4 separate regions of the Homo sapiens genome follow, and regions 1, 2 and 4 are each reported to be linked to region 3. Evidence: microRNA targets listed by miRTarBase, many of them from high-throughput screens and not tested one by one. Region 3 holds a microRNA gene; each other region holds the end of a gene's coding sequence.

Region 1 (5,204 bases), not on the chromosome of region 3:
AGAAATAGCACCAGGGTGCCTGCACAGTGCACAGTCCCTTCCCATCCTCAGTCCACTCCTGTACATAGCCCAGACAGAATGCTGGACTCACCCAAAAGAAAGAGACCGAAATCCCTTGCGCAAGTGGAAGAGCCTGCAATTGAAAATGTTAAGCCTCCAGGTTCCCCTGTGGCCAAACTGGCAAAATTTACTTTCAAGCAGAAGTCAAAACTGATCCACTCCTTTGAAGATCACAGCCATGTGTCACCTGGTGCAACTAAAATAGCAGTTCATAGTCCTAAAATTTCCCAGCGTAGAACAAGAAGAGACGCAGCCTTGCCGGTGAAGCGTCCAGGAAAGTTAACATCTACCCCAGGAAACCAGATCTCCAGTCAGCCACAGGGTGAGACAAAGGAGGTGTCGCAGCAGCCACCAGAGAAACACGGACCAAGAGAGAAGGTGATGTGTGCCCCTGAGAAGAGGATTATTCAGCCTGAATTAGAGCTTGGGAACGAGACTGGGTGTGCTCATCTTACTTGTGAGGGAGACAAAAAGGAAGAGGTTTCAGGCAGTAATAAAAGCGGCAAGGTTCATGCCTGCACATTAGCCAGATTGGCAAACTTCTGCTTTACTCCCCCATCGGAATCCAAATCAAAATCCCCTCCTCCTGAAAGGAAGAACCGAGGTGAGAGAGGCCCAAGCTCCCCTCCTACAACCACAGCTCCAATGCGTGTCAGTAAAAGGAAATCTTTTCAGCTCCGTGGGTCCACCGAGAAACTGATTGTTTCCAAAGAATCCCTCTTCACTTTACCAGAACTAGGTGATGAAGCATTTGATTGTGACTGGGATGAAGAGATGAGAAAAAAGTCATAGTTGGGAAAAGCTTTCTGGTCAAATCTCACCTTCTTCAACTCCACAGAGGACCTTCAGGATATCAATATGGTATTTATAAATGTATAGAACAATTGGCCATATTGAGGATCACTCTGAATACTGGCTCCCCCTTAAGGCTTTCTAATTTCAGGTTAATCTTCATGACTTAAAAAGTTGTATAATCAGTTGAGGTCAGTGTGATACCAGCAGCTGAGCTGAATTAATTATGTTGTGCTTAATTTTACAAATGGAGTACTTGTATTCCTGTTCCTGAAGCTGTTTCTGTTTTTTGTTTTGTTTTGTTTTTAAGGGGGAGAGGTTCTTCCCTAGATTAATTTCTTCTTTCATTCACTCAGGAACAAATGTCAAGAAGGTAGCACTCATAAATCTAACAAGGCAGATGAACTCTTTTCTACTTTTTTTTTTTTTTTTTGTATTTTCACCTGGAATGGGCTAAGTACAGTGAATATAATCACTTGGATGATTTGCCAAAATCAGACTATTTTTCTAGTATTATTTTTGTATTGATTTGTGTGGATCAGGTTAAATGTGACTAATGCTTTTCTTTCTTTGAGAGGTATCCTTACAATTCCATGATGTTCTTAGAGATCTGGCCACTGGTCAAACAGTACCTTTCTGAAGTACTGACCTTCTGAGTTGTCCTTTCTTTCTTGAGCCAACATTTTGTACTTCAGATTCTTTTTTCTCTTGGGGGCCTACCTTCAACCAAGTAAAATACTGTGATTAGAAGAAGAGAGAGTATGAGCCAGGCACAGTGACTCACTCCTGTAGTCCTAGCTACTCGGGGAGGCTGAGGCAGGATGATTGCTTAAGCCCAGGAGTTCGGGGTTACAGTGAGCTGTGGTCACACCACTGTATTCCAGCCTGGGTGACAGAGTGAGATCCTGTCTCTAAAAATAAAATAAATGAAGAAGAGAGACTATGTGGTAGTCTCAATCAAACATCATGTCTCATCTACCCAGCTGGTTAATATGGAAATGTGATTCCTACTAAGTTGTGATTCACTTGTCTTTAAAACCAAGGAAATTATATACTGTTTTTGGTCAGAATAGATAACCTCAAGCTTTGTCTTTCTATGTGCTTTTAAAATCACTTATTCCTTTGGATTCTAATAAGGGTTATTAGGATTCAGTAATTATGGACTTTCTCTTCTGAAGTGTGAATTTGTAAACTGATTGTTTAATTGTCAGAGGGACTTTTGGACATAGAATACTCAAAACTATATGTATTTTGTTTAATTTTCACTTCATTCAATTCACGCATTGAAAACAAATTTAGAAAATCCAATTTTTCTTAAGCATTTAAACGTTCTAAAATTCACTAATAAAATTTTCTGAAAAAATTTAAACTGTGAGTACAAATTTAGTGTGGCTGAGTCTTGAAATGATTGGCCATAATGAGTACCATTCTCTGAAGTTTGAAACACCTTAAACAGCTGATAAAAGACATATATAAACAATGATTATAAAATTTATTATTTCTGTACCTGTTTAATAATTTACCAGTATACTATGATTCTTAATATATTCCTAATCTTTCAGTTTTATTGCTTTCCTGGGTTTCAGTGTTCTTACCAGAACTAAAGGAAAAGGAATGGAAGTGGGTTTTTGACCAGCTGAATCTTGATCTGGGCGTGGTCTGATTATTTAGATGAGGATGACTCAAACCTAAGCCACAGTGTGGAGCTGACTTTTTTTAATGGTAAATTTTTAAGTCCATGTCTTATGAATTTTTGTCTTTGAAACTTGGTATCTTTTGCAGTAATTATGTATTAGGTTTTGCATGGCTGACAGTACCTAACCTATTGGCATGTCATTAGGGTATTTTGATCTGTTATGTTATTTAAAATATTTGTATTCTTTATTGGGACTTTTGGTTTTAGAGGTTTCATTTTTAGTAATGAGAGATTTAATTTTCATAGTTACCTTGTCTCTTTAGGACACTGAGTAATTCATATTTTAAATTACATGTTGAATTGTCTTTCTTCCTTGGTCATTGTGTATGACTGCCAATGCCACCTTCTACCTGGTTATAATTTGTGCCCACCATGCATCCTATTATTTTGTGCTAATCAATCCACTTTCCATTTTAGTACCTTCTGTCAAGATTTGGCCAAATTACCACTTCCATATGTTTATTCTTTGGTACTTACCCAGATAGAAATAACTACATACCTAAATATTTTAAACAGACATAATTATTAGAAGAAATAAAATACCCAATACATATTGAATATCCCTTATCTGAAATGGTTAGGCCTGGAAATGTTTTGGATTTTGGATTTTTTTGGATTTTGGAATATTTGCACTATACCTATACTTACTGGTTGAGCATCCCAAATCTGAAAATCCAAAATCCAGAATGCCCCAGTGAGCATTTCCTTTGAGCATCATGTCAGTACTCACAAAGTTTTGGATTTGGGATTTTTCGATTAGGGATATTCAACCTGTATAAACATCCTTCTTACTAAAATGTTAAACTTCTATCACAGACTGTTATGTGTTATAACTGCCTCATTGTGCTTATATTTAATGCTCAGTCTCACAGCTTGGTCAGAGTCCCTTTATGTTGACCTGAATGTCCTTTCATCATTCTGATGCTTCTATAAAAGCATCCATGCTATCCGAAAACAACAGGATGTTCCATACCCATTTTGATTTCTTCATGCTCCATGTCATGGAGTCAGCTATCCCCAAGGTACTCTGTTTCCTTTGAAGGTCAGTAGTGTTAGAGACCAAACTCTAGGCCTCAGGGTCACCTGTTCAGGAGAGTCACTAATGGGCAAAAGTTCTTCCACTGCTGTTGGGTCAAGTTTAGTAGGTTCAGAGCTGGAAAGTGTTTTGATGTCCTGAGGTCATGTTTTATCCTGCTGTGTCCTACTTTTGTTATAGACGTGATTTCATGATGACTAAAACTTTCTCTTGTATGGTCTTTAATGTGTGTATCAAGGAAGCACATGGATTGTCTTGGGGGAATATGAACAGTCTCACAGGTCACATTTCTGTTCAATAAAGAGAGGTGTAAAAAATAACCTTTGGCCGGGTGCGGTGGCTCACACCTGTAATCCCTGCAGTTTGGGAAGCTGAGGTGGGTGGATCACTTGAGGTAAGGAGTTCAAGACCAGTCTGGCCAACATGGTGAAACCCCGTCTCTACTAAAAATACAAAAATTAGCTGGGTGTGGTGGTAGGCGCCTGTAATCCCAGCTACTCGGGAGGCTGAGGCAGGAGAATCACTTGAACCTGGGAGGCGGAGGTTGCAGTGAGCCAAGATCATGCCACTGCACTCCAGCCTGGGTGACAGAGTAAGACCCTGTCTCACAAACAAACAAACAAAAAACCTTTAATTCTGAATCAAGTTGCCAAAATATTTTGATTTCAGTCCCAGTGTACTTCTTGAAAACATTTTAATAATGTAAAATTATCTAAACACAATAAAAACTATACTTAATTTTATCTGTGAGAGGGCTAAACCAGAATTTAAATTCTATTGTAACTATATGAGATAATGGAATTTTCTGATACTGTAAAAGATTAATCTTCAGTGCATATGTAGTATTCTAAAATGTATAATAGGAATTTTATTGTAATTTTTGGTGTCTTATAGAAATATGAGCAAAACAAACATATTATTCTGATATCTTTAACTCTGTGGCTTAATGCAAATTTTAAACTTTTTTGAAGGTATACCAAAACATTAAACATTTATTCTTGGTTGACAAATTTTAATTCTAACAAACTTACACATTCTGTAGGCATACTTGATTTCTGTTCCTTCTCCATGTGCTAAACCTTCTGCTTAACGGGTGGAATGCTAGAGAAAATCCTAGGTTAACTCAGAGAGCTTGCCTTTAGCCAGTTCACAATATTTAGGAGTTCAGAAACTATCCAACCTTGAATTCTAGGTCACTAGAGACTTCCTGGGACCTGGTGAACCTTTCAGATGCAACTTACCAAACAACCAGTTTCCAAACCTATTAACATCACAATGTAGGAAGCTAAGCCAGTGCTTCTTCCTCAGTGTTCAAAACCATCCTCTGAGCTTGCTTTCCTTATTAACATTCAAGAAAGATAAAAGCGCCCTGGCTCACATTAGTACCCACTCCAATTGGGGTGTTCCTGTCAGTGTTCTGTCTTGCATGTGACATAGCCCCCCAGGTATACGGGGAGCCATTACCCACACACATCCTCTTCACTGTCACTCAGAGGACATGCACAGGAAGTGGTGGCAACCGCCCCTTATGACACACTCAGTAGTTCTTGTATCTGTTCCACTGCCACATCTCTTCCTTAAAGGCTTGAAAATGCATCTAAGGGTAATATTTGTAATAAA
Region 2 (5,204 bases), not on the chromosome of region 3:
GAAGCCCTTCGTGTGCAGTGAATGTGGAAAGGCCTTCACCCACTGCTCTACTTTTATCTTGCATAAAAGGGCCCACACTGGAGAAAAGCCTTTCGAGTGCAAAGAGTGTGGGAAAGCCTTTAGCAATCGGAAGGACCTCATTCGCCACTTCAGCATCCACACTGGAGAGAAGCCCTATGAGTGCGTGGAGTGTGGAAAGGCCTTCACCCGCATGTCGGGCCTCACGAGGCACAAGCGGATTCATAGTGGAGAGAAGCCCTATGAATGTGTTGAGTGTGGGAAATCGTTTTGCTGGAGCACAAACCTCATTCGACATGCCATTATCCACACTGGAGAGAAGCCCTATAAATGTAGTGAATGTGGAAAGGCCTTCAGTCGCAGCTCGTCCCTCACTCAGCATCAAAGGATGCATACTGGGAAAAATCCCATCAGTGTAACAGATGTGGGAAGACCTTTTACAAGTGGACAAACCTCAGTTACCCTTCGAGAACTTCTTTTAGGGAAGGACTTTTTGAATGTAACCACTGAGGCAAATATTTTGCCAGAGGAAACATCTTCCTCTGCATCTGATCAACCATACCAAAGAGAAACCCCACAAGTGTCTTCACTGTGAGAAAACCTTCTGTTGCTGAATATTACTTGTCATCTGAAGAGTCATATTAGAAATTCGTTCAGTCTAGAGCCTTATTCTCCATCTGATAATTTATCCTGGAGAGAGACCCAGTGGTTATTGTGCACATAGGAGAACCTTCAGCTGCATCTTTCTCCTTAGTTTACAGTGCAATTTTATCTCAGGAATTATTTTTAAAAGGAGGAGGGGACATAGAAAAAATGAAATGCAAGCACACATCTTTTCAGGCTTCTCTGCCAAGCCTATGGCGCTTTGTCATGGATTTCTTAGTGTATTTGGGGGAAGGGAAATGTTTCAAGGTAAAGAACCTTGACCCTTTATGTGCTTGTATGTACATTTATTGCTATCCAGTGTCAGAACAGTTAGTTTAGGAAAAGTATGCAAACTTTAATCGCACATCTTCTGTATTCCACAATAGTACTTACTCTTGAGAAGCATAACTTTATGACAACTTAGGGGGCTTGAGCCATGAAATACTCACGTTTAAGTCAGTAAGGATACACATGTTAACATTCAGGCTTTTGTCTTGATGCCCGTCTTTTGGTTTACGTCATCATTGTAGCCATATGGTAAATTTTTATTTGTTAAATTTTTAAAAATTACTTAGCTCAAAATGTCAGTGGTAAATTTTTAAATTGAGTAAAGTGATTCTTCTTTGCTCTTATTTAAAATCGACAGCATTTCTAGTTCCTTTGACATTCCATATAATTTTTAGGATTAGTTTGTACTTATTTACAAAACAGTCTTGTTCAGATTTTTACAGAAATTGAGTTAAGTCTGTGGATTAATCTGTTAAGAATTGGTATCTTTACTATGTTGGGTCTTGTAGTTCATGAGTGCAGGAGTAGGCCTCTTAATTTATAATAGTTAAGCATTCCTTAAAGTATTTCATTAATGTTAAAAATTTTCAGCGTATAGATCCCTATGCATTTTTGTTAGAATTTGCATCCTAGGGTGCTTTTTTGTTTGTGTGTGTGTGTAATTTGAGTGATTGTAAATGGCATTGATGTTTGAACTTTGAATTGCACACAATTTTTGGTAGTATACAGAAATATAATATTTTTGGACATTGTTTTGCTACCCTGCAACCTTATTGAGTTCACTTATTATTTTTAGCTATTTCTTTCGACAGAATCCTTGGAATTTTCTATATAGAAATGTCATCTGCAAATACAGACCATTTTTTATCTTTCATCTTACCTGTAATATACCTTTTATTTCCTTTTTGTTTGTCTTATTGCATTGCACAAGCTGGGACTTCCATTATAGCGTTGAATAGGAATAGTGAGAAAGGCCATCCTTACCTGGTTCCTGATAGTAGGGGGGACAATGTTCAGTTTTTTGTTTTTTTGTTTTTTGTTTGAGACAGGGTCTCGCTCTGTCACCCAGGCTGGAGTGCAGTGGCACGATCTTGTCTCACCATAGCCTTAAGTTCCTGGGCTCAAGTGATCCCCCCACCTCAGCCCTCACCACCCCCCAGTAGCTGGTACTACAAGCATGCACCACCAGTCCCAGCTAATTTTTGTATTTTTTGGTAGAGACAGGGTTTCACCATGGTGCCCAGGCTGGTCTTGAACTCCTGGGCTCAAGCAACCTGCTTGCCTGGGTCTCCCAAAGTGCTGGGATTACAGGCGTGAGCCACAGTGCACAGCATGTTCAGTTTTTCATCATGAAGTATAATGTAAGTTTTATAAAACATATGTCCTCTATAAGGGTAAAAAATTTCCTCTGTTCCCAGTTTTCTGAGACTCTGTGTTGCTATGAATAAGTGTGGAATTTTGTTCAGTACTTTTTCTCCACCAGTTGATGTCATTATGCTATTTTCCTTCTACATCCTATTGATGGAATGTATTGCTTTGATCAAGTTTTGAATATTGAGCCAGCCTTGCATCCTTAGAATAAACCATACTTGTTTGTAGAGTATAATTGTTTTTATATATCATTTGACATCATTCCCTTTGTTTGTATTTTGTTGAGGAAATATTCCTCTAATTTATTGGCTAATAATGTGTAGTTCTTTTTTCTTTTGTTTCTTATGTTCTAAATGTCTTATGTGTGGTTTTGATGTCTAGGTGATCTTGACCTTTCAACATGAATTGGAAGGAGTTCTCTTCTAATTTTTGGAAGACTGTGTAGAATTGGTGTTATTTGTTCTTGTCATGTTTGATGACCTCTAGTCAACCATTGGGCCAGAGATTTTTCTTCTGGAGGCTTTTAAATTACATATTTATTTTATTGGATAGGTAGAACTATTCGAAGTATCTATTTCTTGTGTAATAAATTTTGATAGTCTGTCCTGTTGAAGGAATATTTCATCTGTATTTGTAGCACTCCCTTATTCTTTTGATAGCAGGATCTGCACTTCTTTTTATTTTTAATATTTAAAATGTGCATACTCATTTTATGATTGAGTCTTCTTAGACATTTATCAGTTTTATTGCGCATCATGCTGAAAGATGTAATTTTTGCTTCATCTCTCACTTCAGAGAACTAGCACTTTATATTAATGATTTGTCTCTATTCTTGATTTCTTTGATTTCTGCTCTGATCGGTATTATATTCCACTTGCTTTGGTTGTATTTGGCTCTTTCTAACTTTTCAAGGTGGGGTTTTAGATTATTGATTTGAGATTTTTTTGCTTTTTTAATGTAAGCATTACATTGTATAAATTTACCTCATATCACTATTGGTTTGATCCCACAAGTTTTAATGTTTTCATTACATTTTAATTCTAATAGTTTTTATTTTTTGAGACATTCTCTCTTAGCCATGAATTATTTAATAGTATGCTTAATTTTCTGGTGTTTGGCATATTTGTTACTGATTTCTAATTTGTTCCATGTTTGATCTGACTGTTTAAATGTGTTAACATTTTTTTATGACCCAGGATAGGGTCTATCTTGTTTCGTATAGCTGCTTGAAAAGAATGGGTGTTCTGCTGTTACTGGGTGGAGTTTCTATAAATGTCTCTATGATCCTGCTCATTGTTATTCAAGTCAGCTATGTCCTTGCTGATTTTCTGTCCAGCATTTCTGTCAGTTGCTGAGAGGGGTGTTGAAGTCCTGAACATAGGCCGGGTGCAGTGGCTCACGCCTGTAATCCTAGCACTTTGAGACCACTAAGGCAGGTGGATCACCTGAGGCCAGGAGTTCGAGACCAGCCTGGCCAACATGGCAAAACCCTGTCTACTAAAAATACAAAAATTAGCCAGGCATGGTGGCGTGTGCCTGTAATCCCAGCTGCTGGGGGGCTGAGGCAGGAGGATCAGTTGAACGTGGGAGGCAGAGGTTGCAGTGAGCTGAGATCTCACCACTGCACTCCAGCCTGGGCAACAGAGCGAGACTCTGTCTCAACAACAACAACAAAAAGTCCTGAACATGATTGTGGAAGTGTGTTGCTCTTTCAAGTTCTATCACTTTTTGTTTGCAAAGTTCAAAGCTGTATTGTTTGGTACATATACATGTAGGTTTGCCAAGTCTTTGTGGTGAATTGACTCTTCTGTCATTATGTGATGTCATTTTTTTGCCTTTTAATAGTCTTGTCAATACTTTACCTGATGTTCTCATAGTGACTCCTGCATATTTTGATTAATGTTTGCATGGTTAATATTTCTTCATTTTATTTTAAAGCTTACCTGTATCATTACTTATGAAGTCAGTTTCTTTGAACAGCATATACTCAGGCCATGCTTTTTTTATTCATTCTGCATATGTCTCTCTTAATTGGTATGTTGAAATGATTTACATTAAAATAATTATTGATATTTTAGGGCTTAAGTGTGCCCTTAAATGATTTTTGTGTTCTTTTTTATTGTTCCTCTGTTATTTGGGGTTGTTTACTAGTCTTCCTATAGGTTACTTCACCTTTTTTTTTTTTAATAATTTGATTTGATACATATGTAGTGTTTTTTAGTATAGATCCTCCTTGACTTATGATGGGGTTATGTCACAATAAACCCATTGCAAGTTGAAAATACTATGTCAAATATGCATTTAATACACCTACCCTGCTGAACATCATAGCCGATCTTGCCTTCAGAATGCTCAGAAAATTTACATTAGCCTGCAGTTGGGCAAAATCATCTAACACAAGGCCTACTTTATAATAAAGTTACTGCAAAGAATTTTAAATAAAAATTCAAGTGTGGTTTCTACTGAATGCATGTCGCATTCGCACCATTGTAAAGTCAAGTAGTAAGTCGAACCATCCTAAGTCAGGGACTGTCTGTATATATCTGCATTTTTTAGTGATTGTTCTACTATTACAGTGTAAATATATAACTTATGACAGTTTAATAAGTTATCAGCAATTTAGCACTTTACTTCCATTAGGTTCCTTTAGCTTACCTACTAATGTAACTATCTTAAGTAATAGTAATTCCTCTTCAAAAATTGAGCGCTATGTTGCAAGATGTAATTTTTCTTTTCCTTTTTTTTGAGACCAAGTCTCACTCTGTCACCCACGCTGGAGTGCTGTGATGCGATCTCGGCTCTCTGCAACCTCTGCCTCCCGGGTTCAAGCAATTAACTGCCTCAGCTTCCCTAGTAATGGATTACAGGCGCCCGCCACCACG
Region 3 (5,000 bases):
GGCCTTTTGGGGAGCCCAGACCTGGGAGCTCCCCAAGCCAACACTGTGACTCCCTCTTTGGGTCCCTGCAGTTCCTGGCGTCTCCAAGCTTCCGGGTGCCAATGTGTTCCCTGGTGCCAGCTGTGGAAGCTGCTTGCAGTATGCCTGGTCCAGCCACAGCCTTGCAGAGAGCTGGTGCATCTGGAGCTGCCCGCCCCACTGCAGCAGCTGGTGTGTCTGACTGCGCAGTAGCCAGACCTCACGCTCGCTCACACATGCCTTGCCACTCCACGCCGTACTTGCCCTTGGCAGGTGTGGGATCCAGGCCGGTAGCATAAGCTGAGCACAGCCTGCCAGGCCAAGTAGGTGGAATGAGCCCAGTGGGCCTGAGCAAGACTTGTGCAAAGGCGCCACAGGCTACAGAGGTTTCTGGCCAGAAAAGCGACACCCTAAACATCCCATAACATTACTTTACCTGTTCAAATGTGGACTATGAAAGGATATTGAAAAGTTGGGCATCTCAGAGACTTAGACATTGAAAAGATACTAACGCGCCACAAAAATGTAAATCCAAATAGCTAGTTGTATACAAGAAGGTCCTCAACAGCATCAGTAATCAGAGAAATGACAGTTAAAACCACAATGATATATTACCATACACCCACCAGACTGGCAAAACCAAAAAGACCAATAATGTCAAGTGTTGTGAAGGTGTGGAGCAATGGGACTCATATATACCTAGTGTGACTGTGTAACCCTCTAGAAAAGAACTTGGCATTATTTATTCAAGTTTATGATACATATTACACTCCCAGGTATATGTTATACAGAAACTGACGTAGATGTGATGGAATACATATATGAAGAATGTTCACATTAGCATTTATAACAATCCTAAACTGGAAACAACCCAGATGTCCATCAGCAATAGAATGGCTAAACATATTGTCACATATTGTTATAATGGGACACTGTAATATGCAGCAATGAAAATGCACAAATTACAGCTATAGGAACAACCTGAACAACATATGAATTAAAAACAATGTTGAGCAAAAGCAGCAAGAACAACAGATTACATATTATATTGTTCCAGTTACATAAAGTTCAAAAGAAAGAGTGAGACTAAACAATATATTGTTTAGGGATGCATGCTTGCGACAAAGCGACAAAGAAAAGCAGGGAAATGATTATCACAAATGTTAGAATAATGACTACACTTAGGAGGGAGGGAAAGAGTTGTGTTCGGGAAGGTCATGGCAGGGAGGGGAACTTCTGAGTTGCTGGAAATATTCCATTTCTTGACCTGGTTGATTGGTTACATGGTGGTTTCCTTTATAATCACTTATACTATATAATTGCTTTATGTATTTAAACTATATTTCACAATAAAAATGTTAAAATTAATATAGATAGTATTTCTGGAAAGCAAAATTTTGCCAGATAATTTAGCTTACACAATCTTTGACAGTAAAAGCCACTGATATGGAATAACGAAACACTGATTAGTTTCTTGTAAGAGCTCACTTTCAAGTGTAGAGGTCAAAAACCTTATAAGAGTCTCCGTTTTTCTATATTTTAACACAGTATTTAGATCCTTATCTTAAATTGATGAACCAGGGAAGTAACTATTAGCTAAAACTTCAGATTTTTTGGAATTTTTAATTAACTAGCTGTTTTCTCCTCTGGATTAATAAGCAATACAAGGAACTAAAGAGATGCAGACCAAGTTGGAAATGTATGAACTTCCTTCTCTCCAGTCTCCAGTTCCAGCTGTTTCCTCCTGTTATCAAGCTGGGTGCTGAGGTGGGTATCTAGCCCAGTAAGCTTAGTGTGCTGTTATTAAATACTTTCTAAGTAAGTGGCTCAGGCTCTCCTGAGTGCCCTTCTGTTCCTCAGCACTGAGGTTGTAAGGTGGAGCCACTGACAATGAAAACAGAAGATCACGCTGCTGAAAAACCCTATGTGGTACACACTTAACTGGAGGTGTTCTCTGCTGGGCTGCAGAACTCTGATGTTTGCACTCTTTTCCTTCAAAGCCTACAAAGGTTAAACTCTCTGAGGTGTTTAGCTTCACAAAATCCCCTAAATCTGTGTGTTTTACTCCTTTAATTTCCACCATTCCCCTGTTGTAAGATAGGAAGAGGGGGAAAAACAAAAAATATTTATTTTGTAGCCATGTGAGACCATCACTTGTTGGTCTGATTACCTGTGAGTCTTATTTGGAAGGCTGTAGCAGGGGATTGGTCACGTAAAGACAGAAAAATCCAGGGTAATTTAAGCAGGATATTTAACCTGGCTCTTGGAACTTCAGGTCAAGGGCAGTAGGGTCAGGTGCTAGTCTGTGAGTCTCTCCTTGGTTTTGCCACATCCTCCTTTGCCCCTCTCACCACCTTTCCCGCAGCATTTTAATGAACACGAGCCCTTGGATTTACCCAGTTAAAAGTTTCCTTAGTTTACTGTTTGCAGATGGTAGTGGCAGTAGTGGGAGAAACCCAGAGCTTCCCACATTTGTCTATAATACACTTGCTCCTACCTTACCCCCTCCTCCAGGTGGAAAGACTTGTAAAATCCATTACTACTGCTTCCCAAGGAGGTAGAGTGTACTAGGGTCCAGGGACAGAATTGTGGAATCTGCTTTCATCATTGCTGCTGCTTTAATCTTTTTCTCATACTATTCACTGAAGACAGATTTCTGAGGATTCTGGTCCTTTTATCTTAAATTTGTTTTCCTAGAGAACTACACTTTAAACTTCATGAGTTTCTACTTAACTTTCCTTTCCAGGATAACATCTGTAGGAAAAGCTGCATAATAGTAATAACACTTATTTTAGAAAGAAAATAACCTTTGAGTCAGACCTGAAACAGGCCAACATTTCTTGATGACAACGTACACTGATGAACCAAGACCAGAAGCTCTCGAAAGCTCCAAACCGTAAGAAAGAACCATTCGTAAAAGTGAGGGACTATTAAATTCTTCCCCTGACAGTCAAAAATCCTTCAGCAATCTCCCAGAGGATGGCTCCCTTCCAATCCTCCCTTCCCGCCGCCCTAACAATCTGCGCGAGGATGGGTCCCTTCCCTTGCTCGGCATTTCGTCTCCTTTTCCACTAAAGACTCAGGTTGTGACTCTGTACTCAAGCCGCACCCCTGTTTCCTTTCATGGCTAGGGGGAGGGGAGGAATGTATTACAACTCATTTTTACAATGCACTGCAGTTTACAAAGCGCTTGCACTTCCACCATATCCTCTGAGCTTCACGAGTGCCACGTGAGAGAGGCATTCATTCATTCATTCATTCATCAAACATTTGCTCGGCCCGACCACACGTTATCCAACGCTGGGTCTCACCCCACGCCACGGGAAGGGTGGGGCGCTCTCTCCCTGGAGCAGGTGCAGATCAGGCTGTAGGGTAACTCCTCGATCAGTCCGGCTTTTCGAGGGTCTGTTTGGGGCCAAATGCCTCACCTTCGGGTGGTGCGCGCAGCTGCCTGAAGACGCGGCCTGGGCCTCCTCCTTCCTCCCAAAGGAGCAGTCCCCACCTGCCCCGAAGGAAACCGCTACAGACCAAGCTCTCCAGGCCGCCCTCGGGTCAGGGGTAAGATCGGGCGGCAGCTTAGGCTCGACTCGGCTCCTCCCCTTCCTCTCTTCAGTTCTGACGCGGCCGTAGAGGCGGCAGCGGCGGTGGCGGCTGCGAGTCCCGCGGCCCGAGGCGCACCCACCCGCTCGCCGATCCCCACTTCCTCTTCCCTTGGAGCGTCATCAGAGCGCGCCAGAGGCGCCCAGGGCGGGGTGGCTGGAAGGGGGAAAAAGGCCAGCGGAGGAAGCCTCAGAGCGGAAAGAAGAGGGAGGGGGAAGAGAGCGGTTGCTAGGTGACTTGCGTCATCGGCAGGCGCCGCTCTCCTCCCGCCCCTCTCTCTGGAGTGAGGCGAGAGCCCCGCACAGAGCGAGGGAGACAGCGAGCTGAGCTCCGGGCGCTGCCGCTGCCGCTGCCGCCGCCGCCGCCGCTGAGACTGAGAGCGAAGGAGCATCCGAGAGATCCAGTCCCCCTGCACTGGCCGCCGCCGAGACCTTCGCTCTCACCTGGGCCAGCGGGAGCCGCGGCCGCACTCCTTTCCCCCCCTCACCTTCCCGGCCGGCAGCGGCGGCTGCACACGCCGGAGCCGGAGCCAGAGCCGGAGCCCGAGCCTGAGCCGGAGCCGGCGGCTTGGGGGGCAGGGAGGCGGCTACCACGGGCCGGGAGTGGGTAGCTGCTCCGCGGTGAGAGAACGCTGAGGAGGCGCCAGAGCTTCTGCCTCGTCCCGTGGGGCGTGGGGCGAGACCCCCAAGGTGTAGGGAGGGGGGTCCCAGCCGCAGCGACACATGCGGGAGCCGGGAGCGGGGGCGGCGCCGAGCGGAGCCGGCCGGGTCCCTCGCCTTGCCGCCGACTCGGCCACCCGCCCGGGGCCGTAGCATCTTGCCCCGGAGTGTATGAACCGGGGCCCCAACCAAGCTCGGCAACCACCCCCCGGCCGGGGGGGCGGGGACCCCGATGTGAAGCGGCGGCTGGGGCGGCGGAGAGAACAGGACCGACGCCGCCGTCCTTTCCTCACCTTCCCCCTCCCCTCAGCCCCCTCCGGGGGTCTTCTCCCTTGGCCAGTCGCCGGCCCCCCGGCTCCTTGGCTGGACTCCGGGAGGAGTTCCTAGAGCCCCCCTCCCCCGCCCCAGTCCCGAGGGCGGCGGGGCCGGGGGGGACCCGGGGGGCCGGCCGCAGCCTCCACCCAGAGGAAACTTTACAAAAACAAAATCCGGAGTCTCCCAAACCTGACTGTCCCGGGAGAAGTGGCCCTGGACGGGCAGAAGCCGCAGCCTGAAAAGACCCAGGAAGAGGAAAAGAGGAGGTAAGCGGGGCCGCCGCCTCCCCTCCCCTGGCAGCGCGGAAGAGACCCGGGTTGCCGCCTGGTTTAGCGACACGAGCACCGCTTCTTCCTCAGTACCGCGCCGGAGCCTTCCGCAGCTGCCGCTTCAGTCCGAAGGAGGAAG
Region 4 (5,177 bases), not on the chromosome of region 3:
GATAATAGACATTTTTATAATAACGAGTTTCCCCACTGAACACAGGATAACACTTTTAATCAGATTTGCAAAAATACCTACCCATTCACTTCTTCCACTTCCACTACTTTAGCCCAAGCCATCATCTTTTCCTTGTCCTCTTAGTCTGTTCTCTCACACTGTAACCAAGTATCACTTCTTTGTGCAAAACCTCCTGACAGCTTCTCATTTATGAGTCAAAGCCTGGAGCCAGGTACGGTGGCTCATGCCTGTAATCCCAACACTTTGGGAGGCCAATGTGGGAGGATGGCTTGAGCCCAGGAGTTCAAGGATGTTGTGATCCATGATAGTGCCAACTGCACTCCAGCCTGGGCGAGTGAGACCGCACCCTCCCCGCTCCCATCTCTTAAAAAGAAGAGTCAAATCTCAGAAGGGAATTGGAAAAATGCAAGACCAACTTTTAGTTGTGCTGCAGAAGAGAAGCAGCTGGGCAACAGGTGGAGAGGATTTGGGTTCAAGGAAGTTGTTTTGTTTGTATGCTGATGAGAACTAACCTCAAAAAGTGGAGGAAATTGTTGAACTAGGAGATAGAAGGGCAAGTGCTGAAGAAATGTTTTTAAGTAGGCCTCCAGTCACGTTTCCTTCCATTCATTTTCCTGAGCCTGCCCCCAACAATTTAAAAGGGACATCTGATCATGTTCAACTCCCCTGCTAAAACTTTCAATAACCCCCCACTACCTTCTGTAAAAACTTACAATTTAACCTGGCATACAAGACATTCCATTCTTTTTTGTTTTTTTGAAACAGAGTCTCGCTCTTGTCACCCAGGCTGGAGTGCAGTGGCGTGATCTCAACTCACTGCAACCTCCACCTCCCAGACTCAAGTGATCCTCTGTCCTCAGCCTCCTGAGTAGCTAGGATTACAGGTGCCCCCCACCATGCCCGGCTAATTTTTGTACTTTTAGTAGAGATGGGGTTTCATCACGTTTGGCCAGGCTGGTCTCGAACTCCTGACCTCAGGTGATCCACCCGCCTCATCCTCCCAAAGTGCTGGGATTACAGGCATGAGCCACCATGCCTGGCCATTCCATTATTTCTTTAAAAATGTATGGGGTACCAGATGTATGTAGCACTATGGTAGGTGCTGGTTATAGTTAACAAAACAGGCTGGGTCACCATCTTTGTGGAACTTATGGTGTAGTTGGAAAGATACGTAAATAAGCTTGGGAGATTTGCTATAGGACAGGAAATACTAAGCAGTGTTTGGATGCCACTGGGAATAATTCAGAAGGAAGGACACAGATACTATAGTAGAGACATGATCAAAAGAATTAAAGGCCTTGAGAAATGAGAGGGGATGATGAGACCCAGAGCATGTGGGGAGTGACTGAGTTTTGTAGGAGGGATACTTCAGTTGTAACTAGAGAGAAAGGTTGAGTGATGGAGTAGATAGATTTATAGATGGTGGGATGATGAATTCCATCAATGGTTTTTCAATGAAATGTGAAGCAAGATCCTTAGCTAGATGGAGAGGAGAATATTAAATGGTCATTTCAGAGTATTAACAAGAAGTTACAGTTGTTGCTTATTTCTTACCTCCTACAGCTTCCTAGTTGTTGTTTTACACTTCTGAGATTTTGATTTAGTTCTCATTATTCTTTTCTGGCAAATTTCTACTTGTTCTTCCAGACTTATCTAGGCCATCACTTTCTATGTCACCACACCTGGTACCTATCTCACTTCCACTATTAAAATACACTTTAGTTTGTATTTGTTTCCCCTACAAGACTAGTAAGATTCCTGAAAAACTTGGCCTGTGTCCCTAGTGTCAAGCGGGACATTTAAGTAAGGATTTTTGATAAATGTTTAACAGACATTGTCTGTGGAATCTACAGCTAGAATTTATCTGATATGGAAGTGCCAAGGATTAATCAATCCCTAGAATGAAGCAGCTCATATGACATCTGTGCCCTTTTAAAAATGGCACTGTTTGGCTGTGCTTGTTGTTGTCAATGCAGAGTGCTCCTGCACCATTGCTGTATGGACACACCACCACGTTGGCTTTCATTTAGTCTTTTTGTTTTATTCAAATGTCAAAATGTAAGTTCCAAGATACAAATTATGTTTGATTTAAAAACATCGACTATGCTTTGTTAACAACTTCCAAAGCCAAATGTAAGTTGTTGTGACTAAAATGCCTCCCCAGTACATTTCTGGAGGATTAACCTTAATATGTTTAGCAGCTAGTCTGATTTCCACTCTACAAAAAGGAAAATGATGCTATAAGGGAAAGATAATGAACAAAGTTATAATATGTAAGACTTCCTGGGAAGAACTTGAACCATTACTAGGGAGACCAAGGAGAGGTGTTTCTGTTCCATACTATAGCAACCAGCCTTAACACTCTGTAATACAAAGTGCATTTCTGGTCCTACCCAGCCATAAATACCATACATCCCTTTTATTAATTATATCAAAGAAAGCCCAACTCTTCATCAACAAGATTTAGAATTTCCTAATAGCTTTAGTTTTTCCCTAAAAAAAACTGTGTAAAAGGAAAGCTCGAGTCTATAAACCAAAAAAAAAAACCCACAAATATTTACATGTACTCTGATTTAAACAATTTCAAATGAGATTAAACTGAATGAATATAGAACTTGTACCACCATTATAGAAGGAAAGAAAAAAAGCTTAAAAGGTACCCAAATATTTTAATATTTATGGAATTAAATGATACAATTTTCATTAAGACCCCAAATATCCCACCACTTTTTAGCTTTGCTGTATAATGAAGGTTAGTAACTTATATGTTAGTGTGAACACATTTACTTTGGCTGATAGCAAAACATAGATTTTTTAAAATGTTCTAAGAAGCCAAAGAATTAGACCAAAATGTTCAGCACCAAAAAACAAAACAAAAAAACTAGCTCAATACTTCAGGTTAAATACACAATATCAAGAAATTTTATTTAGGTCAGCACATGGCTGTTACTATGACTGATACTGCATGCTATTTCTAGAATTAGATATGTATCTTTCTGGCTGGATGCGGTGGCTCATGCCCGTAATTCTAGCACTTTCAGAGGCCAAGGTGGCCGATTGCCTGAGCTCAGGAGAGACCAGCCTGGGCAACATGGCGAAACCCCGTCTCTACTAAAAATACAAAAAATTAGCCAGGTGTGGTGGTGCACGCCTGTAGTCCCAGCTACTCAGGAGGCTGAGGCATGAGTATCGCTTGAACCTGGGACTCAGAGGTTGCAGTGAGCCAAGATTGTGGCACTGTACTCCAGCCTGGGTGACACAGCGAGACTCTGTCTCAAAAAAATAAAATAAAATAGATATATAACTTTCTGAAGATTTAAGCCAGACTTCAATTCCATGTACTCACCCATAGTACTAAAATGGATTAAAGATGGTAAATAAGGCCGGGTGTGGTGGCTTACGCCTGCAATCCCAGCACTTTGGGAGGCTGAGGCCAGCAGATCACAAGGTCAGGAGTTACAGACTAGCCTGGCCAACAGGGTGAAACCCTGTCTCTACTAAAAATACAAAAATTAGCCAGGTGTGGTGGTGCGTGCCTATAATCCCAGCTACTTGGAAGGCTGAGGCAGGAAAATTGCTTGAACCTGGGAGGCGGAGGTTGCAGTGAGCCAAGATCGCACCACTGCACTTCAGCTTGGGACAGCGTGAGACTCCGCTCAATTAAAAAAAAAAAAAAAAAAAAGATGGTAAATAAATCAGACAACTTGGTAAGAAAATGGCCTTTTTTACAGAACCAATTGGGAAGTTAGTGTCATGCATTAGCAGATAAGACTAGGAATACAGCTAAACCAATTATCAAAATATAGTTCTTCAGGGTATTTTTCAATGAAATGTTTAACTACTTGAAAACTACCTGGTCCAATTTTTTGTTTTCGCCCTGAGACGGAGTCTCACTTTGTCGCCCAGGCTGGAGTGCAGTGGCACAACCTCAGCTCACTGTAAACTCTGCCCTCCGAGTTCAAGCGATTCTCCTGCCTCAGCCTCCCGAGTAGCTGGGATTACAGGCACCTGCCACGGCACCCAGCTAATTTTTCATATTTTTAGTAGAGATGGGGTTTCACCATCTTGGCCAGGCTGGTCTTGAACTCCTGACCTCGTGATCCACCCGCCTTGGCCTCCCAAAGTGCTGGGATTACAGGCGTGAGCCACCACGCCCGGCCTACCTGGTCCAATTTTTAAGATGAATAAAATTCCAATATTTTCAGAAACACATGTGGGTAAAAAAGGTAACACTAAAGAATGGTATCTCAATATTCAATTTTAAAGAATTTATTTTCCCATTTGTAGAGTAACATTATTGTAAAATCTACAGTTATCGCAATACCTGCATTGCTTAAAAGAATTCCTAAGAATTTTGTTAAAGCATATTTTTTTTAAAAAACTGAACCAAAATAATGTACATTTTATCTCTAAACATTGTGTCATTAAAGTCCATATAACATCTTCCGTAAAATCAATGTGATGTTACAATTATATACATGATCTGATTCTTCTCCTAAAGGCTTCTCTGACCATGTATGATATCCAAGATAGATCCAATGCCTTTAATATCAGACTGTAGAGACAATTATGATCCTAAACAAAAGAAGGAAAAGCTGTATATACAAGACAGCAATATGACAGTTTAGCTGTTTGCAGCATCTGCTTGGCGGGGCCATCCTTCTTCTTCAACTCCAGAGTCATACTCCTCTTCAGAGGATTCTTTTGTTGGAGCCCTACAATGAAAAGCCATGTTTGTTTTTTTAAAATAAAAAATGGAGGTAAACATGATCTTTAAAATCAAAACAGCAAAGTAACCTCTCCTAGCTAAGAAAGCCACGATAATAGAAAATATTAGGAGCACTTTTAATATTAAGACGGCTTAGGCCGGACACAGTGGCTCACATCTGTAATCCCAGCATTTTGGAAGGCCGAGGAGGGCTGATCACTTGAGGTCAGGAGTTCGAGACCTGCCTGGCCAACATGTTGAAACCCCATCTCTACTAAAAATACAAAAATTAGCCGGGTGTGGTGGCACACACCTGTAGTCCCAGCTACTCAGGAGGCTGAGGCAAGGGAATCGCTTGAACCCAGGAAGTGGAGGTTGCAGTAAGCCGAAATCATACCACTGCACTCCAGTCTGGGCGACAGAGCAAGACTGAGTCTCAAAAAAAAAA

The links. Region 3 holds the annotated microRNA hsa-miR-4453 (GAGCUUGGUCUGUAGCGGUU, at 3,534-3,553, opposite strand). A microRNA usually pairs through its seed, bases 2 to 8, with sites in the 3' UTR of a target mRNA and lowers its output. Matches are read on the target gene's strand: a 7mer-m8 pairs with bases 2 to 8, a 7mer-A1 pairs with bases 2 to 7 and ends in A, and an 8mer does both.
Region 1: the mRNA of MCM9 is a reported target of hsa-miR-4453. The part of its 3' UTR that is shown has no 7-base or 8-base seed match.
Region 2: the mRNA of ZNF264 is a reported target of hsa-miR-4453. The part of its 3' UTR that is shown has no 7-base or 8-base seed match.
Region 4: the mRNA of CLPX is a reported target of hsa-miR-4453. Seed matches in the 3' UTR shown: 7mer-m8 at 3,653-3,659.

The regions. Positions count from the first base shown.
Region 1 is chr6:118,810,472-118,815,675 of GRCh38, reverse strand. It overlaps MCM9 (minichromosome maintenance 9 homologous recombination repair factor), which reads left to right. Exons shown (of 14, transcript NM_017696.3): 14 at 1-2,221. The coding sequence ends at 852. Among named protein-coding and RNA genes, the nearest start is that of ASF1A, 81 kb to the left of the region's middle.
Region 2 is chr19:57,212,369-57,217,572 of GRCh38, forward strand. ZNF264 (zinc finger protein 264) reads left to right here. Exons shown (of 4, transcript NM_003417.5): 4 at 1-5,204. The coding sequence ends at 613. Among named protein-coding and RNA genes, the nearest start is that of AURKC, 16 kb to the right of the region's middle.
Region 3 is chr4:152,534,985-152,539,984 of GRCh38, reverse strand. It overlaps MIR4453 (microRNA 4453), which reads right to left and starts at 3,557; the gene lies at 3,469-3,557. It overlaps FBXW7 (F-box and WD repeat domain containing 7), which reads left to right and starts at 3,893. Exons shown (of 14, transcript NM_001349798.2): 1 at 3,893-4,858; 2 at 4,952-5,000. It overlaps MIR4453HG (MIR4453 host gene), which reads right to left and starts at 3,721. Exons shown (of 1, transcript NR_033797.2): 1 at 722-3,721. RefSeq lists enhancers at 3,598-3,957, 3,663-4,198 and a silencer at 4,068-4,857.
Region 4 is chr15:65,146,178-65,151,354 of GRCh38, forward strand. CLPX (caseinolytic mitochondrial matrix peptidase chaperone subunit X) reads right to left here. Exons shown (of 14, transcript NM_006660.5): 14 at 2,042-4,736. The coding sequence ends at 4,646. Among named protein-coding and RNA genes, the nearest start is that of PDCD7, 15 kb to the left of the region's middle.